Linked DNA regions of Homo sapiens. The protein of the gene in region 1 purifies or fractionates together with the protein of each later gene. This does not show direct contact. Each region holds a gene or a part of one and is shown in the gene's direction. Other genes may lie near its edges. The genes, in order: CLU, EDEM2, HSP90B1 and LMAN2L.

Region 1 (7,048 bases):
GAGAGGCCAAGGCGGGAGGATCATTTGAGGCCAGGAGTTTGAGACCAGCCTGGCCAAGATAGTGAGACCCTGTCTCTACAAAAATAAAAACTTAAAAAATTAGCCGGGTGTGGTGGTGCACACCTGTAGTCTCAGCTACTCGGGAGGCTGAGGCAAGAGAGTCACCTGAGCCTGGAAGTTGGAGGCTGCAGTGAGCTATGATTGCACCATTGCATTCCAGCCTGGGCAACAGAGTGAGACCCTGTCTGTAAATTAAAAAATAAATAAAAATAACAATAGGAATCAGTGGAGTCCATCTCTGCATGGCTGGATGACTGACTCTTCTTCCCTCGTGTGTCCCCAGAAGGCGACGATGACCGGACTGTGTGCCGGGAGATCCGCCACAACTCCACGGGCTGCCTGCGGATGAAGGACCAGTGTGACAAGTGCCGGGAGATCTTGTCTGTGGGTGAGTCGGGGTCCAGACCACAAGCCGTCCCCCCTGATCCCTTGTGTCCTGGGGTCACTGGGGCCTCACTGGTGCTGCCTTTATGGAGTCAGACAGATAAGCGTTTGGATTCCAGCTCTGCAGCCTTTGAGCTGTGTCCCGGGGCAGGTCCTGAGCCTCATGCAGCTTCGGTTCCTCATCTTAGAATGAGATGATGATGCGAGGCTGTCCCTGAAGTCGGTGAGATGTCGTTAGAGATGCAAAAGTGCCCTCCACCTGGTCGGCCCCATGTTGAAAAAAGCTTGTTGAAAAAAGTCATCCCCCTGGGACTCCCCGGTGATTCTGTTCCCAAGCGCCAAGCGCAGTAGGCATCTTCATTTTCCTCTGCAGATTATGACATTGCAGACAGTATGTGTTTTGTTTAACAAAACTGACCAGAGGCCAGGCACTGTTCTAAACACTCGACATACATTTCCTCATTTCCTCAGAATGACCCTCTGAGGAAACTGAGCCACAGAAAGGTTAATAACTTATCCAAGATTGACCCCGACATGGGCGAGCTGGGCTTCAATCCTAGGGCGCTGTGTTCTCTCCTGGGGCCCCTCGCAGCCTCTGGCCACAGAAGTCACGGGTCTCAGTACCTGGGCATCCAAGCAATAGTCCCTTTGGTCGGTTGGTTGGTCCCCTAGGCAAAGGGAATATTTCCCTTTAACTGTCCCCCTCCGTTTCACCAGCTCTGGTTATGGGTTAACTTCTTTCCACTTAGAGATAACAGCTGTGACAGTATTTGGACTAGTTCCTGGTACACAGCAGTTCATACTCACAAAGAGTTAATTGTTTCCCCTTGTCAACAGCTTATCGATCTGGTGGCTTTGCTCTTACTTAATGCTTAGTTTGAGTTTGCCATGGCAGGCCGCCAGGGTCTAGTTAAACATTCCTAGCCTCACTCCTATAATTTTAGAAGCCACTGCAAAATAAACAGTTGTGCTTTAACAGGCTGAAGTATAAGTTGCTGTAGATGAGTGCACAACCAGGCCTTGGGGCTTTTTCTATAAAAAATATCATAGAGTGGCATCAATTACATGGTACCTCACCACAAGAAAGTCATGTTAGGGTCTGAGAAAAGATGTCCAGATGCCTGTGCCCAGATTGGACCTCTTATGCTGATTTTTACTCTGTTGCCCAGGCTGGGCTCAGGTCTGGCGCCAATCTTAACAGTCATTGATTACAGTTGAGAGTGCAGCCAGCGCCAGTCTTATCAGTCATTGATTATAGCTGGCGTACAGTGGCTCTATCTCGGCTCACTGCGACCTCCGCCTCCTGGGTTCAAGTGATTCTCCTGCCTCAGCCTCCCAAGTAGCTGGGAGTGCAGGTGTGCACCACCACACCCAGCTAATTTTTGTATTTTTAGTAGAGACAGCATTTCACTATGTTGGCCAGGCTGGTCTTGAACTCCTGACCTCAAGTAATCTGCCCGCCTCGGCCTCCCAAAGTTCTGGGATTACAGGTGTGAGCCACTGTGCCTGACCTGAGATAGATTCTTAGAGAATTATTGGTAAGAATAATTCTCTAAGCTGAGCTAAATAGTCTACACTGAAGAGGACTGCCTACTGTTATTTAAGGTGCTTGCAACCATATAAGCACGTACTGCCTGGGAACTCTAGATGAGGATTTCTCAATTTCAGCGCTGTTGATTTTTTTTTTTTTTTTTGAGACAGGGTCTCTCTCTATCACCCAGCCTGGAGTGCAGTGGCACCATTACAGCTCACTGCAGCCTAGACCTCTTGGGCTGAAGTCATCCTCCTGCCTCAGCCTCCTGAGTAACAGACTACAGGTGTGCTCCACCATGCTTGGCTAATTTTTTTATTTTTAGTAGAGATGGGGTCTTGCTACATTGCCCAAGCTGGTCTCTAACTCCTGGGCTCAAGTGATCCTCCTACCTCAGCCTCCCAGAGTGCTGGGATTACAGGTGTGAGCAGTGCTGACATTTTGGACCAGGTCATTCTTTGTCGTTGGGGGCTGTCCTGAGCAGTTCAGGGTGTTTGGCAGCATTCCTGGCCTCTGCCCACTAGAGGTCAGCAGCTCCCTTCCCTTTGTTGTGACAACCAGCTTCAGAACTTGCTAAATCTCCCTGGGTGACAGCGTCACCCCAGTAGAGAACCTCTATTCTAGACTAAGCCTCAGCTCTCAAGGATTTTTCTTATTTTATTATTATTTTTTTAAGACAGGGTCTCGCTCTATCACCCAGGCTGGAGCGTAGTGGCGCAATCTTTGCTCACTGCAACCTCTGCTTCCTGGGTTCAAGCGATTCTCCTGCCCCAGCCTCCTGAGTAGCTGGGATTACAGGCGTGCACCGCCACGCCTGGCTAATTTTTATATTTTTAGTAGAGACAGGGTTTCACCATATTGGCCAGGCTGGTCTCAAACTCTTGACCTCAAGTGATCAGCCTGCCTCAGCCTCCCAAAGTGCTGGGATTACAGGTGTGAGCTAGTTTTTCTTATTTTTAAATTTTTTTTTGGTAAAATAATGAAGTTTATTTATTACATATTTATTTTCAAACTGGCATCTTGTTAGTAATTCTGTTTCTTTCCCCACCTAACATTTTGTTTACTATAAATGATTGCAGTCATCATCCTAAAGCATATGCAAAATCTCCCTTCCCCTGACTCACGTTTGATGTACCTGCCTCTGGATATTTTTGAAATACCTTAGGGGGAGAAAAACAGTAGTTTTAAGAGCTAGTGGACAGTTTCCAGGTCTTAATGAATCTGACAACCTGCAGCCCAGGGCCAAGAGGAATGAATTCTCTTTTCCCTGCTCTCTTGATGAACTCACTGACCAGCCATGGGCGGGCAGGTGGGCAGGCAAGGACCCCTGGCCACCAGGTGCCAGTGCATCAGCTGCATGAACTCCTGGCACCAGAACTGCCACCTCTACAGACATGCTCAAAAGACAAGTTTGGACCGGGTGCATTGGCTCACACCTGTAATCCCAGCACCTTGAGAGGCCGAGGTGGGTGGACCCCTGAGGTCAGGAGTTTGAGACCAGCCTAGCCAACATGGTGAAACCCTGTCTCTCCTAAAAATACAAAAAAATCACCCGGGGGTGGTGGCAGGCACCTGTAATCCCAACTACTCTGGAGGCTGAGGCAGGAGAATTGCTTGAACCCGGGAGGTGGAGGTTGCAGTGAGCTGAGCTCGCGCCATTGCACTCCAGCCTGGGAAACAAGAGCGAAATTCTGTCTCAAAAAAAAGACAAGCTTGGAGGATTGTCCAGAACCACAGATCCAGGGTAGGAAAAGCCCAAGCTTAGGAGCTGAAGACCCTGGTTCAATCCCGGGCCCAGAGATCATTTATTCTATGGCTTTAGGTAAGCTATTTATTGATACTTCTGTGGGCCTCAGTTTCATTATTGGTAAAAATTATTTCATTATTGGTAAAATTAGGACTTAAGTCCTAATCCTTAAGTCAGAACAGATCCAATTCTTAGAGAAAAAGGATATCCAGAGAGAACTTTCTGCGGTGTCTGGGACGAAGGCAGTGCCACACGAATGGCAGCTGTGAGTAATATTCCTCCTCTCTGGAAATGATTCCCGGGAGGGACTAGGGCAACGAGAGCCACTCCAGGTCTGAGAACATGGAGAACTTGAGATCAGTGCTTTTGGAAGTGTGGTCAACACAGTTTGTCACCAAAGAGATAAGGGTCTGGCACCCAAAGATAAATCAATGATGTTACGAAGCACACTGTTTAGGTCAGTTGGCGTATTTTTCCAGAGCAAGGCTTCTCAGGCTGGGCGTGGTGGCTCACACCAGTAATCCCAGCACTTTTTGGGCAGATGGGTTGAGCCCAGGAGTTCGAGACCAGCCTGGACAACACAGAGAAACCCCGTGTCTACAAAAAATACAAAAATTAGCTGGGCATGGTAGCATGTGCCTATAGTCCCAGCTACTCAGGAGGCTGAGGTTGGAGGACAGCCTGAGCCTGGGAAGTCAAGGCTGCAGTGAGCCGAGATCTCACCACTGTATTCCAGCCTAGGCAACAGAGCAAAACTCTGTCTCAAAAAAACAAAAACAAAAACAAAAAACCCAAAAGACTTTCTGGATGACGGAAGCAGTGTCTAGATTCACATTCTGAGGCAAAACCTTTATTTTGTCGTGGACAATTCCAGTTTGTGGCCCTTCCCTTAGGGAAGCACTGCTTTTGTTCCCGCTGCATGTGCTAACTTCCATTCATTCATGGTTCTATCCCTTTGTAGCCTTCCCTTCACACTTCTCACTTGCGTTTCTTCCATCTCTGGGCAGACTGTTCCACCAACAACCCCTCCCAGGCTAAGCTGCGGCGGGAGCTCGACGAATCCCTCCAGGTCGCTGAGAGGTTGACCAGGAAATACAACGAGCTGCTAAAGTCCTACCAGTGGAAGATGCTCAACACCTCCTCCTTGCTGGAGCAGCTGAACGAGCAGTTTAACTGGGTGTCCCGGCTGGCAAACCTCACGCAAGGCGAAGACCAGTACTATCTGCGGGTCACCACGGTGAGCTGTGTCCCGGCCACATGCTGTGGCTCGGGAGCCCGAGCTGTGATCGGGAGCAGGGGCATGTGTGCTTTTGACTGAGCATTTATCACACGGCAGAAAATAGAAAACTTTAGGCGCCCCTGTTGCCTTGAAGCCTCATCACCCACTCAGGGAAAATATAACCCTGCTTTACAAAGGAGCAAAGTAAGAGAGGTTCCACAGCTTGGCCAAGGTGTGATAGCTGACAGATGACTTGGACGGGTATTTGAACCTGACTGCCTGGCTGCCAAGCCTGTATTTTGTTGTTGTTGTTTTTGTTTTGGTGCACAAATCTGTGAATAAACCAGAAGCCTCTGTTCTTTTCTCAAAGCTACAAGGCTGCCCTCTGGCATGTAAAATGGCTTATGAATTAGTACATCACTCTCTGCCAGTGATAAAAACTTCTCTCTAGGCCAGACATGGTGGCTCATGCCTGTAATCCCAGCACTTTGGGAGGCAGAGGCAAGAGGATTGCTTGAGGCCAGGAATTTGAGACCAGCCTGGGCAACACAGCAAGATTCCCTCTCTACAAAAAATACAAAAATCAGTCAGGTGTGGTGGCACACACTTGTAGTCCCAGCTATTCAGGAGGCTGAGGTGGGAGGATTGCCTGAGCCCTGAAGTGGAGGCTGCAGTGAGCTGTGATCACGCCACTGCACTCCAGCCTGGGTGACAGAGTGAGACTCTGTCTCTTAAAAAATATATATATATAAAATAATAAAATAAAGTTAAAAAATCAAATAAAACTTATTTCTAGTACTGGGAACTCTTCTTTTTCTTTTCTTTCTTCCCTCCAGGCCCTCTGGATTCCTTTTCTACCCTACTCTGACCAAGGGCTGCTTCTAAAGCAAATGTTTGGAAACCACTTTTATTCTTTGGGGTGCTCCCTGGGCTGGTCATTTGCAGATGACATTTGCCCCAACACATGAGTGTCTGTGAACCAGGTCCGTTCTGTCCACTGAGCTGTACTTACGTCTAGATGTATAAGAAGCATGGGGTCAGCTCTCTAGGTTTCCTTGGAGAAGCAGGAGGACTTCCTTATCAGAAGCCTGACTTCTGTTGCAGAGCGCATGCATTTTGACCACAGTGTTTCAGCTCTTCCCTTTTCTCTTGTTCCATTTAGGTGGCTTCCCACACTTCTGACTCGGACGTTCCTTCCGGTGTCACTGAGGTGGTCGTGAAGCTCTTTGACTCTGATCCCATCACTGTGACGGTCCCTGTAGAAGTCTCCAGGAAGAACCCTAAATTTATGGAGACCGTGGCGGAGAAAGCGCTGCAGGAATACCGCAAAAAGCACCGGTAAGCAGGCGGGCCTTTCCTGCGGGCCTGCAGGGCCCAGTGAGTCTCTGGGAGCCACAAAAAAACAAACAAAGTGCAGACTCTATAGCCTGGTGGGAACGACTCCGCCCGGAGCCAGAGCCCAAGAACAAAGCCAGGAAGTTACGGGGGAATTTTATTTTTCCTTTGGAGGATGTTTTACTTTGGAGGATAACTGTTTTTTATTTCAGGGAGGAGTGAGATGTGGATGTTGCTTTTGCACCTACGGGGGCATCTGAGTCCAGCTCCCCCCAAGATGAGCTGCAGCCCCCCAGAGAGAGCTCTGCACGTCACCAAGTAACCAGGCCCCAGCCTCCAGGCCCCCAACTCCGCCCAGCCTCTCCCCGCTCTGGATCCTGCACTCTAACACTCGACTCTGCTGCTCATGGGAAGAACAGAATTGCTCCTGCATGCAACTAATTCAATAAAACTGTCTTGTGAGCTGATCGCTTGGAGGGTCCTCTTTTTATGTTGAGTTGCTGCTTCCCGGCATGCCTTCATTTTGCTATGGGGGGCAGGCAGGGGGGATGGAAAATAAGTAGAAACAAAAAAGCAGTGGCTAAGATGGTATAGGGACTGTCATACCAGTGAAGAATAAAAGGGTGAAGAATAAAAGGGATATGATGACAAGGTTGATCCACTTCAAGAATTGCTTGCTTTCAGGAAGAGAGATGTGTTTCAACAAGCCAACTAAAATATATTGCTGCAAATGGAAGCTTTTCTGTTCTATTATAAAACTGTCGATGTATTC
Region 2 (7,048 bases), on another chromosome or scaffold:
GTTCAAGCAATTCTTTTGCTTCAGCCTCTTGAGTAGCTGGGATTACAGGCGCCTGCCACCATGCCCAGCTAATTTTTGTATTTTTTAGTAGAGATGAAGTTTCGCCACGTTGATCAGGCTGGTCTCAAACTCTTGACCTCAAGTGATCTGGCTGCCTCGGCCTCCCAAAGTGCTGGGATTACAGGCATGAGCCACTGTGTCTGGCCTCTCTCCACAGTTTGGTTTCCCCATCTATCAAATGAGAATCATAATTTCTACTTCCCTACCACATCGGGTTTTGGAGAGGCTAAAATGAGGTCAGGAAGGAGAAACTGCTTAGAGAACGTCCAACACTTTTAAAACGAGAGGGATTTGTTTTGTGGCTAAGCTGTGTCCAGGGCTGCAGGTCAAGCCTCCATGTTTTTGTCTAGTGGGGCAGTAACACCAGGCTCAGTAGCATCAACTGTACACTGTGTTCCCTTCAGGGTGTGGTGGAGGCTCTGAGGACTGTTCACACCCAGACACGTCACACTGTGCTTTCCATCACCTCTTGGCCATCTCACTTATTTATCCCTTTTCTTTCTTAATTTTTTTTTTTTTTTTTTTTTCAGACAGGGTCTTGCTCTGTCGCCCAGGCTGGAGTGCAGTGGCGTGATCATGGCTCACTGCAGCCTCTCGAACTTCTGGGCTCAGTTGATTCTCCCACCTCAGCCTCCTGAGTAGCTGGGATTACAGGCAGATGCCACCATGCATGGCTAAATTTTTTTTTGTAGAGATGGGGTTTCACCATGTTGCCCAGGCTGGTCTTGAACTCCCGGGATCAAGTGATCCATCTGCCTTGGACTCCCAAAGTGTTGGGATTACAGGCGTGAGCCACCACACCCGGCCTCTTTATCCTTCTCACATAGCACTTGCCTCTCCTTTGGGGGAGAGCTGAGGATAGCGGGTGAGCTAGGTTCAGGTCTCACTCATGGCTCATGGCTCATGGCTTGAGCGTCTCCTTGCAGACATTGTGTCCTGTGTGATTCATCCCTGGAGGAAACTCTGGAAACTCTGCCTAGCTGCTCCTCCTTTATAATTTAATTATTTTTGGTCATTGGTCATTTTATAAAAAAAGGTCAAGAAACAGGATTTTGTCACTCCTCTTCTTTTTATTACAGCCTGACTTTTTCTGAAATATTGCTTAGAGCCCTTCCTGGTTGTGACTTGCTCTCCCGCTGGTGCCTGCCAGATTGCAAGTTTCTTGTCTGTGGCAGACACAGTTGCTAGACCCTGTGGTTCTTGGAAGTGTCGACACCTTTGTTCACAGTTTGGTGACGCATAGGCTGCTCTGGAGTTGTTTGACCTTTAGGCCCAGAGAGGAAATCTCTGCCTCTGGCTGGTTGTCCAGTTCTCGTCTTGAACCAGAAGGCACTTGGGTGCCACTTGGGTGGGGCGGGCAGAGAACTGGACTGGGGCTGGGGTGGGCACAGGGGAGGCGTTCCCATCCCAGCTCTGTTTGACTCTCTCTGTGTGACCTGTGGCTGAATTACTTCTTTACAGGCATGGTTTTCCCTACCTATAAATCGAGGGTCATACTATATCCGTGGTTTAGTGGTTTATATCCTATTTTGCTTCCCTTTAAAAATAATTTAGCCCCTATACTCTTTATTTAAAGCAGAGATCTTTATTTAAAGTCTATGAATGGCTTTGTTTATTATTATTATTATTTTGAGACAGGGTCTCGCTCTGTCACCCAGGCTGGAGTGCAGTGGTGCAATCTCAGCTCACTGCAGCCCACGCCTCTTGGGTTCAAACGATTCTCGTGCCTCAGTCTCCCAGATAGCCAGAATTACAGGCGTGCACCACCACGCTTGCCTAATTTTTGTATTTTTAGTAGAAATAGGGTTTCACCATGTTGGCCAGGCTGGTCTCGAACTCCTGGCCTCAAGTGATCTGCCTGCCTTGGCCACCCAGAGTGCTGGGATTATAGGCGTGAGCCAAAAGTCTATGAATGGCTTTGAACGGGGCTTACTCTTGTCATTGTGCCACAAGCCCCACCACTTTCTGTGGCTTAAACCCTGCCTGCATCACAATAAGTTACCTGCCTGGGCTTTGAAGGCGTAGTGTAAAATAAATAAAAATAGGTAAAGCTCTCTAGCTAAAGCGAGTGTGTGTGGAGCACAGCCTGCTCCCTGCCCCCTCATGATGAGCAGGAACCCAAGGTTATGCAGAGCAGTGTTTGACAGCATCTGGGCTGGGTGGCTGCTCAGGGCCCTCCAGTTATGACATTTATCTTTCTCTGGCTCAGACTCTAGCAGGATACCCAGGAGAAAGAGGGAAGTGCTGGCTAAGGTCCCAGGCTTTGGGCGTGTATCAGAACTATCCCTATCCCCCTGCTCCTGTCCGGGATCATAATTTGTCGATTGTTCAGCCTTTCAGACCCCCACTGGCATGCCATATGGAACAGTGAACTTACTTCATGGCGTGAACCCAGGAGAGACCCCTGTCACCTGTACGGCAGGGATTGGGACCTTCATTGTTGAATTTGCCACCCTGAGCAGCCTCACTGGTGACCCGGTGTTCGAAGATGTGGCCAGAGTGGCTTTGATGCGCCTCTGGGAGAGCCGGTCAGATATCGGGCTGGTAGGTTCGCTGCTGCCCTTCCTGTTTGAGTCCCTGCTTACGAGGCCCAGGGCTCTGAGCAATAAGTTGCAGTCAAGCCAAGGAAAACTTAGGGTGACCTTGGGAGTGGTCCAGGATTTGGGCTCAGGACACCAAAAATAGACCAAGCCTCCAATTCAAGTTTGGCTTGGAGTGGGGAGGAGAGTGGGAAAGCACGTTTCTGGCAGGCAGCAGGGGCTGCATTCAGCTTTGACCAGTTGAGATTCTCTGATTTCTAGGAAGAGGGTCGTATGTTTCATGCCCCTGACTCACTTGACGGCTTCAGATCATCAGCTCGTCCGGCCTTCATTTTTAGCGTCTATCTGTATTTGCTGTGTTTCTTAGGACACCGGTTCTGAGAGATACTGAGTGGCAGTTGCATGAAAAAATGAGTCTTGGCCAATTAAGTTAGGGGAATATTAGATATAATATCCCCCCCTTTTTTGGAGAGTCAGAATGCACATGAGCAGAATAAAAATCCTCTAGTAAAGAAATCTATTCAACTTTGTTTAATTTAACATTTCCCAAACTTATTTAACACCAGAGCTTCCCTTTATCTTCCAGTACTATTAACCCATGGAAATTGAACACACTTTGGACCAGATGATCTCTAAGGTCAGTTTCAGCTTCTAAATGGGATAATCAATAAGATTAACAGTAATTGAGCCAAAGCCATCCAGGACATAACACTGGATTTAGTCAGAACTGGATTCAAGCCCTGGCCTTGCTACATCGAAACTGTGTGACCCTGAGCAAGTCACTCAACCTCTCTGGTCCTCAGTTACTTCAGCAGTAACGTTAATATATTAATACCAACTTTGCTGAGTCACTCTGACTTAGGAAGACTGCATTTAGGTCTAGGCACATTTTATGCAGTCTGGTGCTAATCCAGCTTGAAAAGTAAAGCTTGTGTGAGGACTCCCCGAAAATCCCTTAAGAAGGTGCCCCCCTAAGGCTGGGTGCGGTGGCTCACGCCTGTAATTCCAGCACTTTGGGAGACTGAGGCGGGCGGATCACCTGAGATTGGGAGTTCGAGACCAGCCTGACCAACATGGAGAAACCCCATCTCTACTAAAAAATACAAAATTAGCCGGGCGTGGTGGTGCATGCCTGTAATCCCAGCTACTTGGGAGGCTGAGGCAGGAGAATTGCCTGAACCTGGGAGGTGGAGGTTGGGATGAGCCGAGATCGCGCCATTGCATTCCAGCCTGGGCAACAAGAGCGAAACTCCATCTCAAAAAAAAAAAAAAGGTGCCCCGCTGGAGACCTGTAGTAAATCCCTTAGTCCATCTCAGGCAGGTTTTGCTCCAGCAGTGGGACCGTAGTAGACTCTGTTGGTGCCATGCCCATATCCTCTCAACTCTTAACATTTCCATGCACACTGGCCAGTCTTCCAACTGCCATCACCTGCGCCTCTTTGCCTGTGGGTCTCCTCTGGTGCCTGGAGCCACTCTGCTTGCCTTTGGCTGAGGGTACCAGGATTTAATGCTACCCATGAGTAGCTCTCAAGCCGGTAACTGATACTGATGGGAGTTGGTGGATAAACATTCCAGTTCCCTGCCCCTTGGGTGGGATCACTCCGAAGCTGGAGCTCTACACTGAATTCCTAAGCTCCCCAGCAAGATTGAACTCCAGTTCCCATGGTGGAAACCTGCCTGATGGCATACCCCTTAAATGCCGCCTCCCTTGCCCTGCCTCACTTCCCCCTCCTCTACTGGTGTTTACAAGGACTTACCTTCCAAATCAACTACTTTCAGGCAGAATGAGGTTGTGCTCCTGGGGGGACACAAACCAACGCGGAACAGTTAGCTATTTCTTTGAGTACCAGATGAAGTTACCAGCTTCCATGAGGGTCTAAGCCATATGAAAAATACATATATTTGGCTGGGCGCAGTGGCTCACGCCTGTAATCCCAGCACTTTGGGAGGCCAAGGCAGGCGTATCACCTGAGGTCGGGAGTTCGAGACCAGCCTGACCAACAGGGAGAAACCATGTCTCTACTAAAAATACAAAAAATAAAATAAATACAATAAAATAGAAAAATACGTATCTTTGTTTATTTTTTTGAGACAGAGTCTCCCCCTGTCGCCCAGGCTGGAGTGCAGTGGCACGATCTCGGCTCACTGCAACCTCCCCCTCTTGGGTTCAAGTGATTCTCATGCCTCTGCCTCCTGAGTAGCTGGGATTATAGGCACACACCACCATGCCTGGCTAATTTTTGTGTTTTTATTAGAGACAGGGTTTTACCATGTTGGCCAAGTTGGTCTCGGACTTCTGACCTCCAGTGATTTTGCCCCCCTCAGCCTCCCAACGTGCTGGGATTATAGGCATGAGCCACCGCGCCTGGCCGGCATTGCCAATTTTTCACAGTCTCTACAGAGACTGAACAATTAAAAAAAAAAAAGTCAAAGGATACAAAAAAGGGTACTCAGTGACATTGGTGAAGTCCCCTTTTGCCCCTGTCTCCAGCTATTCGGTTTCTCTCCTTAGAACCACTCTGTCAGCTTCTTGGTGGATGTTCTTATTGAGTTAATTTATGGAAATACGTAAAGCACGTCTGTGTCTTCAGATAGTGGAATCACATGCTGGGTGCTGAGAAATCAGACAGATTGCGGCAACAGCAAATTCTCATCTCCCATCTCACACTCACTCTAGGCAGGACATAAACACTCCAAATCATTTTTCTTTTTCATTTTTTGCTCAATGTGTATAATTAAGTCCTCATAAATGTGCATGAGATGCATCTCTACTATGCAGATGTACAGGAAGGCTGGCCATGATCCAGCATTGCCCTTCCCTCTCAGGGTCTGCATGTTTCCCAAGAAGCACTGGGGCACCTGCCCTGCATCTCCCTGGGCAGTCAGGGTTGGGGGTGAGTAGATCCTTCTTTGGCCATCGGCCTTCCCGTTGGGACCGTGTGTCTTTCTCTCTCTCAGGTCGGCAACCACATTGATGTGCTCACTGGCAAGTGGGTGGCCCAGGACGCAGGCATCGGGGCTGGCGTGGACTCCTACTTTGAGTACTTGGTGAAAGGAGCCATCCTGCTTCAGGATAAGAAGCTCATGGCCATGTTCCTAGGTAAAAATGGCAGAGTAAGGGAGCTTTTCCCCTCATTTTTCTTGCTGATGTGTGATTTGTTTAAAAACTTTTTTTTGAGACAGAGTCTTGCTCCATCTCCCAGGCTGGAGTGCAGTGGCACAATCTAGGCTCACTGCAACCTCTGCCTCCCAGGTTCAAGTGATTCTCATGCCTCAGCCTCCTGAGTAGCTGGGCATGTGATGGTGTGGACTACAGGCGCACACCATCACATCCAGCTAATTTTTGTATTTTTAGTAGAAACGGGGTTTCACCATGTTGGCCAGGCTGGTCTCAAACTCCGGACCTCAGGTGATCTGCCCGCCTTGGCCTCCCAAAGTGTTGGGATCACAGGTGTGAGCCACCACGCCTGGCCTGAGTGCCTGCAGAATCAGTTCTGAATTCAGAGTCACTATGGACTTACACTGCCCACTTCATGCCCACTACAGCACTTGATGCCTTCTTGCAAAAGCCAACTGAAGCGTGCTGCATTCTGTGTATGTAGCCCTGGATTTCTTATCTCCTGGCCATTGCACATGGCATCTTCTTTGCCTAGAATGTCTTTTTTCCTGTCTTCCTATGTCCAAATTCTTTTCACCCTTCAAAGCCTAACTTAAATGTCGCCTTGCCCAGGAAGTAGCTTGATCCTTCTACAGAATTTGGGACCTTCAGCATCTTTCTTGCAGTTAGCTCTCATCAACAGTTACAGCTCTACAAATTGAATGCAGAATCCATGCCTTACTCATCTTATGTTCCCCACAGTGCTTTACATGTGGTAGGTAATAGATTAATACCTGTTGAATAAATACATCTTACCCGCCAGGCCCTTAGACACTAGCAATCTTGAGGAATTGTTGAGCACCTAATTACTATTATTATTATAGCTACAGTAGTCCCCCGTTATCCACAGTTTTGATTTCCATGGTTTCAGTTATCCATGGTCAACTGCAGTCTGAAAATAGGTGAGTACAGTCAGATACGATATTTTGAGGCTGGGTGCAGTGGCTCACGCCTGTAGTCCCAGTTTTTTGGAAGTGAGGATTGTTTGAGGCCAGGAGTTTGAGACCAGCCTGGGCAATATAGTAAGACCCCCTCTCTAAAAAAACAAAGATATTTTGAGGCACTAAATTTACATAATTTCTTTTTTTCCTGTCTCTTACCAAAAAGACAAATTCACATAACTTCTATAACATATATTGTTATACTTGTTCTGCTTTATTATTAGTTATTGTTGTTAATCTCTTCCCATGCCTAATTTATAAATTAAACTTTTTCGGCTAGGCACAGTGGCTCATGCCTTTAATCCCAGTGCTTTGGGAAGCTGAGGCGAGAGAATTGCTTGACCCCAGAA
Region 3 (7,000 bases), on another chromosome or scaffold:
ATTATAATTAAAGGCTCAGCCTGAAAACAGAGCTCTCCTTTACAACTCATTGGCCATTTATAACTCATTGGCCAAAACTAGTCACATGGCCTTAGCCATTCTTAAATGGAAAGTAGAGTACTCCTAAGTTTCTGGAAGGCAGACAGCCAGGAATATTGAGTGAAGAATATTAATGATCCATCACAGATTCCAAATAGAGGAATCATTCAAGTTGTTTTGTATTCTAGTAAAGAAATAGGCAAGACATAAAATTTTATTTTTCTTGAATTGTTTTCCTTCAAAGGTAACTTGTTTTATTTAGGTCAGCCTCTAACCTTTGACATTTAGGCCAGTCTGCCCATTTGATATTAATACTTTCTCAAATACATAAATTACTTTAAGATGTACACTTTCAGAAAAGGCCATAAAAAACTATGTGGAGGAAAATATCTCAGTTTAGTTTTCTGTATTGGAATTGATGGGACCCAAAGCTGGTTAGTTCCTCAATATTTGTTTGGCATAATGTAAATATTAAATACAACTATCTGGTTCTTGTCTTGCATTTAGTGTGATAAGGAGAAGAACCTGCTGCATGTCACAGACACCGGTGTAGGAATGACCAGAGAAGAGTTGGTTAAAAACCTTGGTACCATAGCCAAATCTGGGACAAGCGAGTTTTTAAACAAAATGACTGAAGCACAGGAAGATGGCCAGTCAACTTCTGAATTGATTGGCCAGTTTGGTGTCGGTTTCTATTCCGCCTTCCTTGTAGCAGATAAGGTTATTGTCACTTCAAAACACAACAACGATACCCAGCACATCTGGGAGTCTGACTCCAATGAATTTTCTGTAATTGCTGACCCAAGAGGAAACACTCTAGGACGGGGAACGACAATTACGTGAGTATGACCAATTCCTTATAAGAATTAATAGTCATGGTGAGGATCTTGACTCTCCAGTTCTATTCTCTGAGCAAATGACTTATTCTGGGCCTTAATTTTCCTGCCTTATAAAATGAGGAAACAGAACTGTTGTCACTTGAAGAAATGTTTGAGGACCTGCAAAGGGCCAGGCACAAAGGTTTGTGATTGCTGTTGTACATGGAGGGTATAAAGTAGGAAATAGCAGCAGCTTCCCCAAGGGAGAAGGCTTCTTGGGTACCCACAGAGGAGGCACTGCTTGGTCAGTTTCCCAGGTTAGAAGAGTAATTTGTCTGTGGAGCATCCTGAATAAAGGCATGGAGGCATAGCATGCTCACTAGATGAACAGAGTTCTTTTCGGTGGCAGTTATGGATAGAATGTGATGAACTTTTATTTATTTATTTATTTTGAGACGGAGTCTCACTCTTGTTGCCCAGGCTGGAGTGCAATGGCACAATCTTGGCTCACCACAACCTCCGCTTCCTGGGTTCAAGCAATTCTCCTGCCTCAGCCTCCCAAGTAGCTGGGATTACAGGCATGTGCCACCACGCCCAGCTAATTTTGTATTTTTAGTAGAGATGGGGTGTCTCCATGTTGGCCAGGCTGGTCTCGAACTCCCGACCTCACGTGATCCACCCACCTCGGCCTCCCAAAGTGCTGGGATTACAAGCATGAGCTACCGTGCCCAGCCAGAATGTGATGAACTTTTTAAGATTCTCAAGGTGGTGTGGAGGATGTGAGGAGTGGACAAGGGGAGACTCTTTGGGGGAAATATTCCTCTTGAAAATATTCAAGATGAGTGGTAGCAACCAGGGCTGGGGCTGGCTTGTAGAGATAAAGGGCTTAAAGAAAGTTCATGAAAGTTGTGAAAGCTGTGGAATAAAATACGTCATTTAAGGATAGTTACAAGTTTTTAAATTTGAATTAAGATCCCTCTTAAGCCAGTAACTGTTGTTTGTATGGGTGAGACAGAGCCAGTGCCCTACAGTAGCTCTCGTTGCTTATAGCACTGTGACGTAGACAGGGCAGCTTTTTGCCTTTTTAAAATTTTACCATCTTGGAGATGAGGAAATTCTATTTCAGAGGTCAGTTGGCTTGCCAACTCCTGCTAAGTGAGTAACAGAATGTGCCCACAGCTTCAATTTTTTTTTCTTAATTCAGTTTTAAGTTTTCTTAACATTAAGGGAAAGAAGCACATACTTATCATTGTGACCAACTTTCTTCATCCTAGAAAGTAACATTTCCTGTTTTTACTGCAGCAGATGTTCTTTTAATGAAGACTAATTAGATGACTGCATTTTAGTACTTTTTTAACTTGTGTTCCCAATTTACCTTCCCCTGCCTTCGTCACTAACATTGATGTCTCCAGGTTTCATTTGGAGGCATCACTAAGAGTTATGCCCCAGTGCCCTCTCTTTTTAAGCACTGGGCTAGATGTTGGAGAAGGATAGGGCAATCATTCCCAAGGAAAGATAGAAAGTGATGTCCCAAGAGATGTTAATGTCAGGTTGCTAAGAAGCAGGTGAAATTATCTGGATATAAGCTCCATGAAGGCAAACATTTTGTTGGAAGCTCCATTCCCAAAGCTTAACACTTAATTGGCAGCCATTTGTATGAATAAGTGAGGTTAAACAGGACAGTTCCATGCAGGGAACGATGGCTGCTAACACCTATCCAGGACCTAGTTTCCATGACCATGCATATCTTTTTAAAAATTTCCTTTGCCCACTTCTTAAATGTTAACATACATTTTCTCCAAGTTAAGTTTCAGCCCTTTTCTCATTGTCCATGTGATCTTTATGTAGTCTTATCCACTGCCACGGCCTCAGGTTCCATCTCTAGTTCTCAAATTTATATTCTTAGCCTAGATCAGGAGTTAGCAAACTTTTTCTTAAAAGAGCCAGCTAGTAGAAAAAAAGATAAAAGAAAACAACAAGAAAGAAAGAGCCAGCTAGTAAATATTTTTAGCTTGTGAGCTATATGGTCTGTCACATGTCCCAACTCTGTTTAGCTTGAAAGCAGGCATAGACAATACATAAGGATGTGTCCCAGCCAAGTGTGGTGGCTCATCCCTATAATCCCAGCACCTCGGGAGGCTGAGGTGGGAGGATCACTTGAACCCAGGAGTTTGAGGTCAGCCTGGACAACATAATGGGATCCCATCTCCACAAAAATAAAAAATAAAAAATTAGCTTGGCACAGTGGTGCATGCCTGTAGTCCCAGCTACTCAGGAGGCTGAGGTAGGAGGATTGCTTGAGCCTGGCAGGTCAAGGCTGCAGTGAGCCATCATCACGCCTGGGTGACAGAGGTCCAAAAAAAAAAAAAAAAAAAAAAGTGTCCCAATAAAATTTCTAATGGGTGCCAGCTGTACAGCTATAGCTTGCCAGCCCCTTGTCTAGGTCTCACTACTGGGCTCTGTGTTCATGTGTTTAATTGCCTTTTAAATGCTTCTACCTAAGATATCTAACCAGCAGCTTCTACTTGCATCCAAAACTGAACTCTTAATCCCCAAATCACTAGAACATGTGCTCTGAGACCAGGGGCCTAGTCACTCACTAGGCTTTGTCATATCATGGCTACTTATTGGCCAGGTACCACTAAACTAATGAGCCTTTTGAGACAGGGAGGGAACCATAGATAGACCATTTCCCATACTTAATTGGGAACACAAGTATCAAGATATGGACTACCTACTGTGCTTAAGAGTAGGTTCTAGGCCGGGCACAGTGGCTCACACCTGTAATCCCCGCACTGCCCGGTAGAATTTTATATAATAGTAGAAATGTTCTATATCTGCACTTTTCCATTTTGGCGATCACCAGCCACATGTGACTGTTGAGTACTTGGAATGTGGCAGCATAACTGGAACTGAACTGTACATTTTATTTAAATAAGTCACATGTGCCCAGTGGCTGCCATTTTGGATAGTGCAGATATAAATATAAACCAGATTAATTTTCTAGCTTTTTTAAGGAAAATGTTTTCATTAATTAGGAATAGTTATCTACAATAATCATTAGGTTTCTGGAATAACAGTAAGAGCTATGAGAGTGCATGATTCCATTTCTCTCCAGAATATTTCAGTGCTTTCTCACCTTGAAAAATGAAAACAATCTATTCAGACGGTTGGGAATATTTTAATTTTCTACTTAAAACTAAGGTTATTCTCCACTTGAGGTAATGTAGAGGAGATTCTTCTCTTTACTGTATCTACATGTGTTACATTTTAGCTCACAAACCCTTGTTGGTGATGGAGAGTTAACATGAATAATTAGGACATCTTGGATTATACTGAACTGCTGGCTATTACCATGGTATTTAAATGAATTTATAATCAGATCTTCTAAATGTTAGGTGTCTCTAAACATCGAATTTTTCTTGCAGCCTTGTCTTAAAAGAAGAAGCATCTGATTACCTTGAATTGGATACAATTAAAAATCTCGTCAAAAAATATTCACAGTTCATAAACTTTCCTATTTATGTATGGAGCAGCAAGGTAAATCTATATTGATTAAAAACTTATATGTATTACCTTGGCACGTATTTAAATATTCAACACTAAAAGAATGAAGGCAGGCCGGCGCGGTGGCTCATGCTTGTAATCCCCGCACTTTGGGAGGCCGAGACAGGTGGATCACCTGAGGTCAGGAGTTCGAGACCAGCCTGGCCAACATGGCGAAACCCTGTCTCTACTAAAAATACAAAAATGTTAGCTGGGTGTGTGGTAGCACACGCCTGTAATCCCAGCTACTCGGGAGGCTGAAGCAGGAGAATTGCTTGAACCCGGGAGACGGAGGTTGCAGTGAGCCAAGATCGCCCCACTGCACTCCAGCCTAGGTGACAAAGCAAGACTCTGTCTCAAAAAAAAAAAAAAAGAATGAAGGCAAAATGTGGTCTATTAGTTAAGGATACTCTCAGGGTTTTCTTACAAAAACCTATTTTTTGACCTGTAATGTTATATCATATTCTGTAGACAAAATCAGAATTGTTAAACAAATGAGTTTAACCATAATTCTCTTATTTCAACAGACTGAAACTGTTGAGGAGCCCATGGAGGAAGAAGAAGCAGCCAAAGAAGAGAAAGAAGAATCTGATGATGAAGCTGCAGTAGAGGAAGAAGAAGAAGAAAAGAAACCAAAGACTAAAAAAGTAAGTCTGGTTTATCTCCCTGCATAAGATATTGTTTAACATGTATAGGCAAAACCAGGAAAACCTAAGTATGCACTGGCTGATTTGAAGTCAGCTTCAGTTCAGGTGCTAAGTCCATGGAGCCAGCTTTTAAAATAAGGCCTTTGTTTGTATGTTGAATACATTGTCCTGTAGAAAGTTTTAAGTATCAAACCCAGGTCATTTTTATGAAGAGTTTTCTAACTTTTATATATTGCCTAGGACTGGTGGCTTATATGTTTGGAATTTTAAAATCTTAAAAAGCCTTCTGAGTCCTCTTTTGTCTTTTTATCATGCAGAGATTAACCATAAAAATGGTTCTCTGGCTTGCTTAGGTAGCAGACTAAGAAGTATTGATCATGGTGGTTGAGAAATATTTTTGTAAAATGTTGGATTTCTTTAAGTCATGAAATGGGAATATATAATATGTATTTCCTTCTAACCTCAAAACAAATATTTTCAAGAAACATTTTTGCTAGTTAAAAAATAACAATGAAGAAAAACTTAAGTGGCTTTTCATCAGTTAACAATTGTCTTTTTGAATTAAATATTGAGAAAAATACTTTGCTTTTGATACAGTTGGCAGAAACCTTACTAGATAACAGGTATCCTTTGGTGCCCTTTTTTTTTTTTTCTTTAATTTGGAGACAGAGTCTCTGCCACCCAGGCTGGAGTGTGGTAGCACGATCATAGCTCCCTTCATCCTTGAACTCCTAGGCTTAAGCAGTCCTTTCACCTCAGCCTCCCAAGTAGCTAGGACCACAGACACACGCCACCATGACTGGCTAAGTTTTAAAAATTTTTTGTATAGTTGGAGGTCTTGCTATGTTGCCTGGACTGGTCTTGAACTCCTAGGCTCAAACAGTTCTCCTACCCTAACCTCCCAAAGTGCTAGGATTACAGGCGTGAGCCACCACACCAGTCCTCTGGGTCTTTACATAGTCTTTTGAAATCTACTGAAGCCATGGTTACTGCTAGGATAACCTTGGTGAGTGCTGAGAGAGACTAATCAAATACTATAATAACTTCAGGTTGAAAAAACTGTCTGGGACTGGGAACTTATGAATGATATCAAACCAATATGGCAGAGACCATCAAAAGAAGTAGAAGAAGATGAATACAAAGCTTTCTACAAATCATTTTCAAAGGTAAATATTTATAATTCCCTAGTTTCTGGTTATTAATGAATAGACAAAATATCACCCTCTTAGTTTAATTGTATATGGTATGTGACCATGAATATGAGATGGTCCATTCCCATTTTTTCCCAGTGAGAAAATTCAAAAAAAGACCTTTAGGCCAACTATAATATGTCTACTTCTGGTTTATTGACCTAGTCACAATTAAAATCACATTTATGAACCTTTGAGATTGACACCTCAGTAGAGATGGTCTTTGAGAGTAATTGGTTTCCAGAACACACCATTTTTACTTAAGTTGAATTATTATACTCATCACTACTTCAAAATTGCAGCAGTTATTAAAATTAGTCCTAGCTCTTAGTGAATAGTGAAACTACAAAATCAAGAATGTTTGAAACAGTTTTATGGCTGTTTAAACACAATTGGTTTCCTTTTTATTCCTGTGTATTTTGTAATATGTGATTTTTTTAAAAAAATTATTTTGAGAAGGCATCTGTAGCCTTCACCAGCTTGCCAAGGGTTTTGTGTGACAAAAAAAGATTAAGAACCACCTACATAGGTAGATGTGTGATTTCCACCACAAAACCCGTAAAACATGAAATCATGTTGTTAAGTGGCTTTTAATATAATCTTTAAAGAGCTTGCTTATGACATCAAACACTTATTGTGAGATCCTATGCCTGGGAATAATTACTAAATTTATGTTTCCTTGCCTGTTTTTTTTTTTCTTCTTCTTTTATTGATCCCTTCTTGTAACTCTTAAGGATGCAAAACTAGCATTGATAAAGTT
Region 4 (3,684 bases), on another chromosome or scaffold:
GTGGTGGTGCATGCCTGTAATCCCAGCTACTTGGGAGGCTGAGGCAGGGGAATTGCTTGAACCTGGGAGGCAGAGGTTGCAGTGAGCCGAGATCGTGCCATTGCACTCCAGCCTGGGCAACAAGAGCAAAACTCTGTCTCAAAAAAAAAAAAAAAAAAAAAAAGTCTAACTTCAGTGCATTGCAACACATCAGATATGGTTAAATGTAGGAGTTTATAATGATACTTTAAAGAGAGAAATCTAGTCCCTAATTGCTTGATCTTCTCTCTGGTAATTATTAGGGAGATTAAGAGTCACAAGTACAAGAAGCCACAGAGAAACAGGCATAGTCTAGAAGGGCAGTGTATCCCATGCCCATAGCTGTGCCCTGCCCATGGCCCATTAAACAGCGGCCATGAGACCTTTTCCTGTTGTACGTGTGTGTGTGTGCACGTGTGTGGTCTTCACCAGCGGGGAAGCTGCAGTCCTACTTTGTCTGTTCTTACTGTGCTGGAAGGTTTAACATATGGGATTTAATTGTGGTTTTATCTCCAAATTTTTTAATTATACAGATGCGTCTTGACATACAATGGCGTTATGTCCCAATAAACTCATTGTAGGTTGTAGATATTGTAAGTTGAAAATGCATTCAATACACCTACCCTACTGAACATCATAGCTTAGCCTAGTCTACCTTAAATGTGCTTAGAACATTTACATTAGCCTACAGTTGGGCAAAATCATCTAACACAAAGCCTATTCTGTAACAAAGTGTTGAATGTCTGATGTAACGTATGGAATACAGTACACGATGCAGTACTGGTTGTTTACCCTTGTGATTGTGTGGCTCACTGGGAGCTACAGCTCACTGCTGCTGCCCAGCCTCAGTACAGAGTGTTGTACTACACATCGCTAGCCTGGGAAAAGATCAAAACTCAAATTTTGAAGTATGGTTTCTGCTAAGCGCAGATTACTTTCACACCATCATAAAGTTGGAAAATTGTAAGTCGAACCATTTTAAGTCAGCGATCTTCTATACAGGTAATGCATGCTTGTTGATAAAAACTTAAATACAGAAGATATAGAATATGCCTTGTTCCCCATCCTTATTTTTAGTTGCAAAATGGAGAGGTTTCAATTATTTTTTCAAGGTCACTGCTGGTTAGCTGTGGATCAGAGGCTTGAACTAAGATACTGACTTCAAGAAACATACCTCTTTTTCAAGTGGCACAAGTCATCCTTCTTCCATTTTTCTTCAGATAATCATGATGTCATTTCCTTGAAGTTGTTTGAACTGACAGTGGAGAGAACCCCAGAAGAGGAAAAGCTCCATCGAGATGTGTTCTTGCCCTCAGTGGACAATATGAAGCTGCCTGAGAGTGAGCACAGGGGCCCGCGGGAAATGGTCCCATAGTTGGGGAGGAGCTTGCAGTGCTGTACCCATAGCTCACAGGGCGGTCTCTGCTCTGTGTTCTTCTTCTGAAGGGTAGGGAGCACTTTCATCTGCCTTTCCCCTTCAAGTTACAGATGAGCAGCAGGAGGGCCGCTTTGTTTCTCAGTTGGAAAGAGGGGGTCTAAGCTCTGGCTTCCCAGAAGTAGGTGTCAGAAACTGGGGGCCGGACAGCCTATAGTTTGATCCTTCCCTATTGGGTGGGCTCCCTGTTTTCTGACTTGCTTCTCTCTTGCTTCCTCAGTGACAGCTCCACTGCCGCCCCTGAGTGGCCTGGCCCTCTTCCTCATCGTCTTTTTCTCCCTGGTGTTTTCTGTATTTGCCATAGTCATTGGTATCATACTCTACAACAAATGGCAGGAACAGAGCCGAAAGCGCTTCTACTGAGCCCTCCTGCTGCCACCACTTTTGTGACTGTCACCCATGAGGTATGGAAGGAGCAGGCACTGGCCTGAGCATGCAGCCTGGAGAGTGTTCTTGTCTCTAGCAGCTGGTTGGGGACTATATTCTGTCACTGGAGTTTTGAATGCAGGGACCCCGCATTCCCATGGTTGTGCATGGGGACATCTAACTCTGGTCTGGGAAGCCACCCACCCCAGGGCAATGCTGCTGTGATGTGCCTTTCCCTGCAGTCCTTCCATGTGGGAGCAGAGGTGTGAAGAGAATTTACGTGGTTGTGATGCCAAAATCACAGAACAGAATTTCATAGCCCAGGCTGCCGTGTTGTTTGACTCAGAAGGCCCTTCTACTTCAGTTTTGAATCCACAAAGAATTAAAAACTGGTAACACCACAGGCTTTCTGACCATCCATTCGTTGGGTTTTGCATTTGACCCAACCCTCTGCCTACCTGAGGAGCTTTCTTTGGAAACCAGGATGGAAACTTCTTCCCTGCCTTACCTTCCTTTCACTCCATTCATTGTCCTCTCTGTGTGCAACCTGAGCTGGGAAAGGCATTTGGATGCCTCTCTGTTGGGGCCTGGGGCTGCAGAACACACCTGCGTTTCACTGGCCTTCATTAGGTGGCCCTAGGGAGATGGCTTTCTGCTTTGGATCACTGTTCCCTAGCATGGGTCTTGGGTCTATTGGCATGTCCATGGCCTTCCCAATCAAGTCTCTTCAGGCCCTCAGTGAAGTTTGGCTAAAGGTTGGTGTAAAAATCAAGAGAAGCCTGGAAGACATCATGGATGCCATGGATTAGCTGTGCAACTGACCAGCTCCAGGTTTGATCAAACCAAAAGCAACATTTGTCATGTGGTCTGACCATGTGGAGATGTTTCTGGACTTGCTAGAGCCTGCTTAGCTGCATGTTTTGTAGTTACGATTTTTGGAATCCCACTTTGAGTGCTGAAAGTGTAAGGAAGCTTTCTTCTTACACCTTGGGCTTGGATATTGCCCAGAGAAGAAATTTGGCTTTTTTTTTCTTAATGGACAAGAGACAGTTGCTGTTCTCATGTTCCAAGTCTGAGAGCAACAGACCCTCATCATCTGTGCCTGGAAGAGTTCACTGTCATTGAGCAGCACAGCCTGAGTGCTGGCCTCTGTCAACCCTTATTCCACTGCCTTATTTGACAAGGGGTTACATGCTGCTCACCTTACTGCCCTGGGATTAAATCAGTTACAGGCCAGAGTCTCCTTGGAGGGCCTGGAACTCTGAGTCCTCCTATGAACCTCTGTAGCCTAAATGAAATTCTTAAAATCACCGATGGAACCAAACATGAGCTTCTGACTGTGTTCTTTCTTCTAGGAGTGGGTTTGGGGAAAGTTCAGGCCTTTATTCTGAGCAGGCCTTTTTTTTGAGCTTCAAGCCCATCAACCGTTGTTTTGCCTTCTCCTGGGTTGGAAAAGCCCTCAGCTCAGCTCAGAAGGAAAGGGGGTCACCTTGGCTAGGCAGAGGTCTCTGTCTCTTCAGGCTTTCTTTCCTTCCCATGCACTTAAACAGCACAGGCTATAGTGCTCTCCTGCAGGTGGGATTCAGGTGGAGGCATCTTCCTCCCACCTCCCCTCCACAATAGTAGAATGGCTCCAGGGTGCCAGAGGACAAACTGACCTAGAGCTTGGCCTTGGAGCAGGGAGAACTGAAAAAGAAAATGGTGGTTTTGTCTTTTTTGAGTTGAAGGGGAGATTGTATGGACCCGTGGGAGGACCTAGGTGGGCTCTTGAGATGGCCAAGGCAGCAGTGCAGGTGGAAGGGGTCTCATCAGAGGGGAGGGGCAGAGTGAGAGAGATGGAACCTGTAGGGTTTGTATGATTCCAG

The links.
Region 2: the proteins of CLU (region 1) and EDEM2 purify together in Homo sapiens (affinity purification with mass spectrometry; 2 studies listed by BioGRID and IntAct, with this or other methods). This does not show direct contact.
Region 3: the proteins of CLU (region 1) and HSP90B1 purify together in Homo sapiens (affinity purification with mass spectrometry; 2 studies listed by BioGRID and IntAct, with this or other methods). This does not show direct contact.
Region 4: the proteins of CLU (region 1) and LMAN2L purify together in Homo sapiens (co-immunoprecipitation; 3 studies listed by BioGRID and IntAct, with this or other methods). This does not show direct contact.

What each region holds. Positions count from the first base shown.
Region 1 is NC_000008.11:27,597,691-27,604,738, reverse strand, and holds part of CLU (clusterin isoform 1 preproprotein), read left to right. Parts: intron 1-343; coding exon 344-448; intron 449-4,729; coding exon 4,730-4,959; intron 4,960-6,103; coding exon 6,104-6,279; intron 6,280-6,488; coding exon 6,489-6,498; 3' UTR 6,499-7,048.
Region 2 is NC_000020.11:35,130,294-35,137,341, reverse strand, and holds part of EDEM2 (ER degradation-enhancing alpha-mannosidase-like protein 2 isoform 1 precursor), read left to right. Parts: intron 1-2,392; coding exon 2,393-2,604; intron 2,605-5,558; coding exon 5,559-5,700; intron 5,701-7,048. Other genes in the region: MMP24-AS1-EDEM2 (ER degradation-enhancing alpha-mannosidase-like protein 2), read left to right, coding at 2,393-2,604, 5,559-5,700. UniProt on the Homo sapiens protein: Involved in the endoplasmic reticulum-associated degradation (ERAD) pathway that targets misfolded glycoproteins for degradation in an N-glycan-dependent manner.
Region 3 is NC_000012.12:103,933,410-103,940,409, forward strand, and holds part of HSP90B1 (endoplasmin precursor), read left to right. Parts: intron 1-546; coding exon 547-878; intron 879-4,285; coding exon 4,286-4,397; intron 4,398-4,930; coding exon 4,931-5,050; intron 5,051-6,099; coding exon 6,100-6,216; intron 6,217-7,000.
Region 4 is NC_000002.12:96,705,388-96,709,071, reverse strand, and holds the end of LMAN2L (VIP36-like protein isoform 2 precursor), read left to right. Parts: intron 1-1,238; coding exon 1,239-1,358; intron 1,359-1,673; coding exon 1,674-1,816; 3' UTR 1,817-3,143; downstream 3,144-3,684. UniProt on the Homo sapiens protein: May be involved in the regulation of export from the endoplasmic reticulum of a subset of glycoproteins. May function as a regulator of ERGIC-53.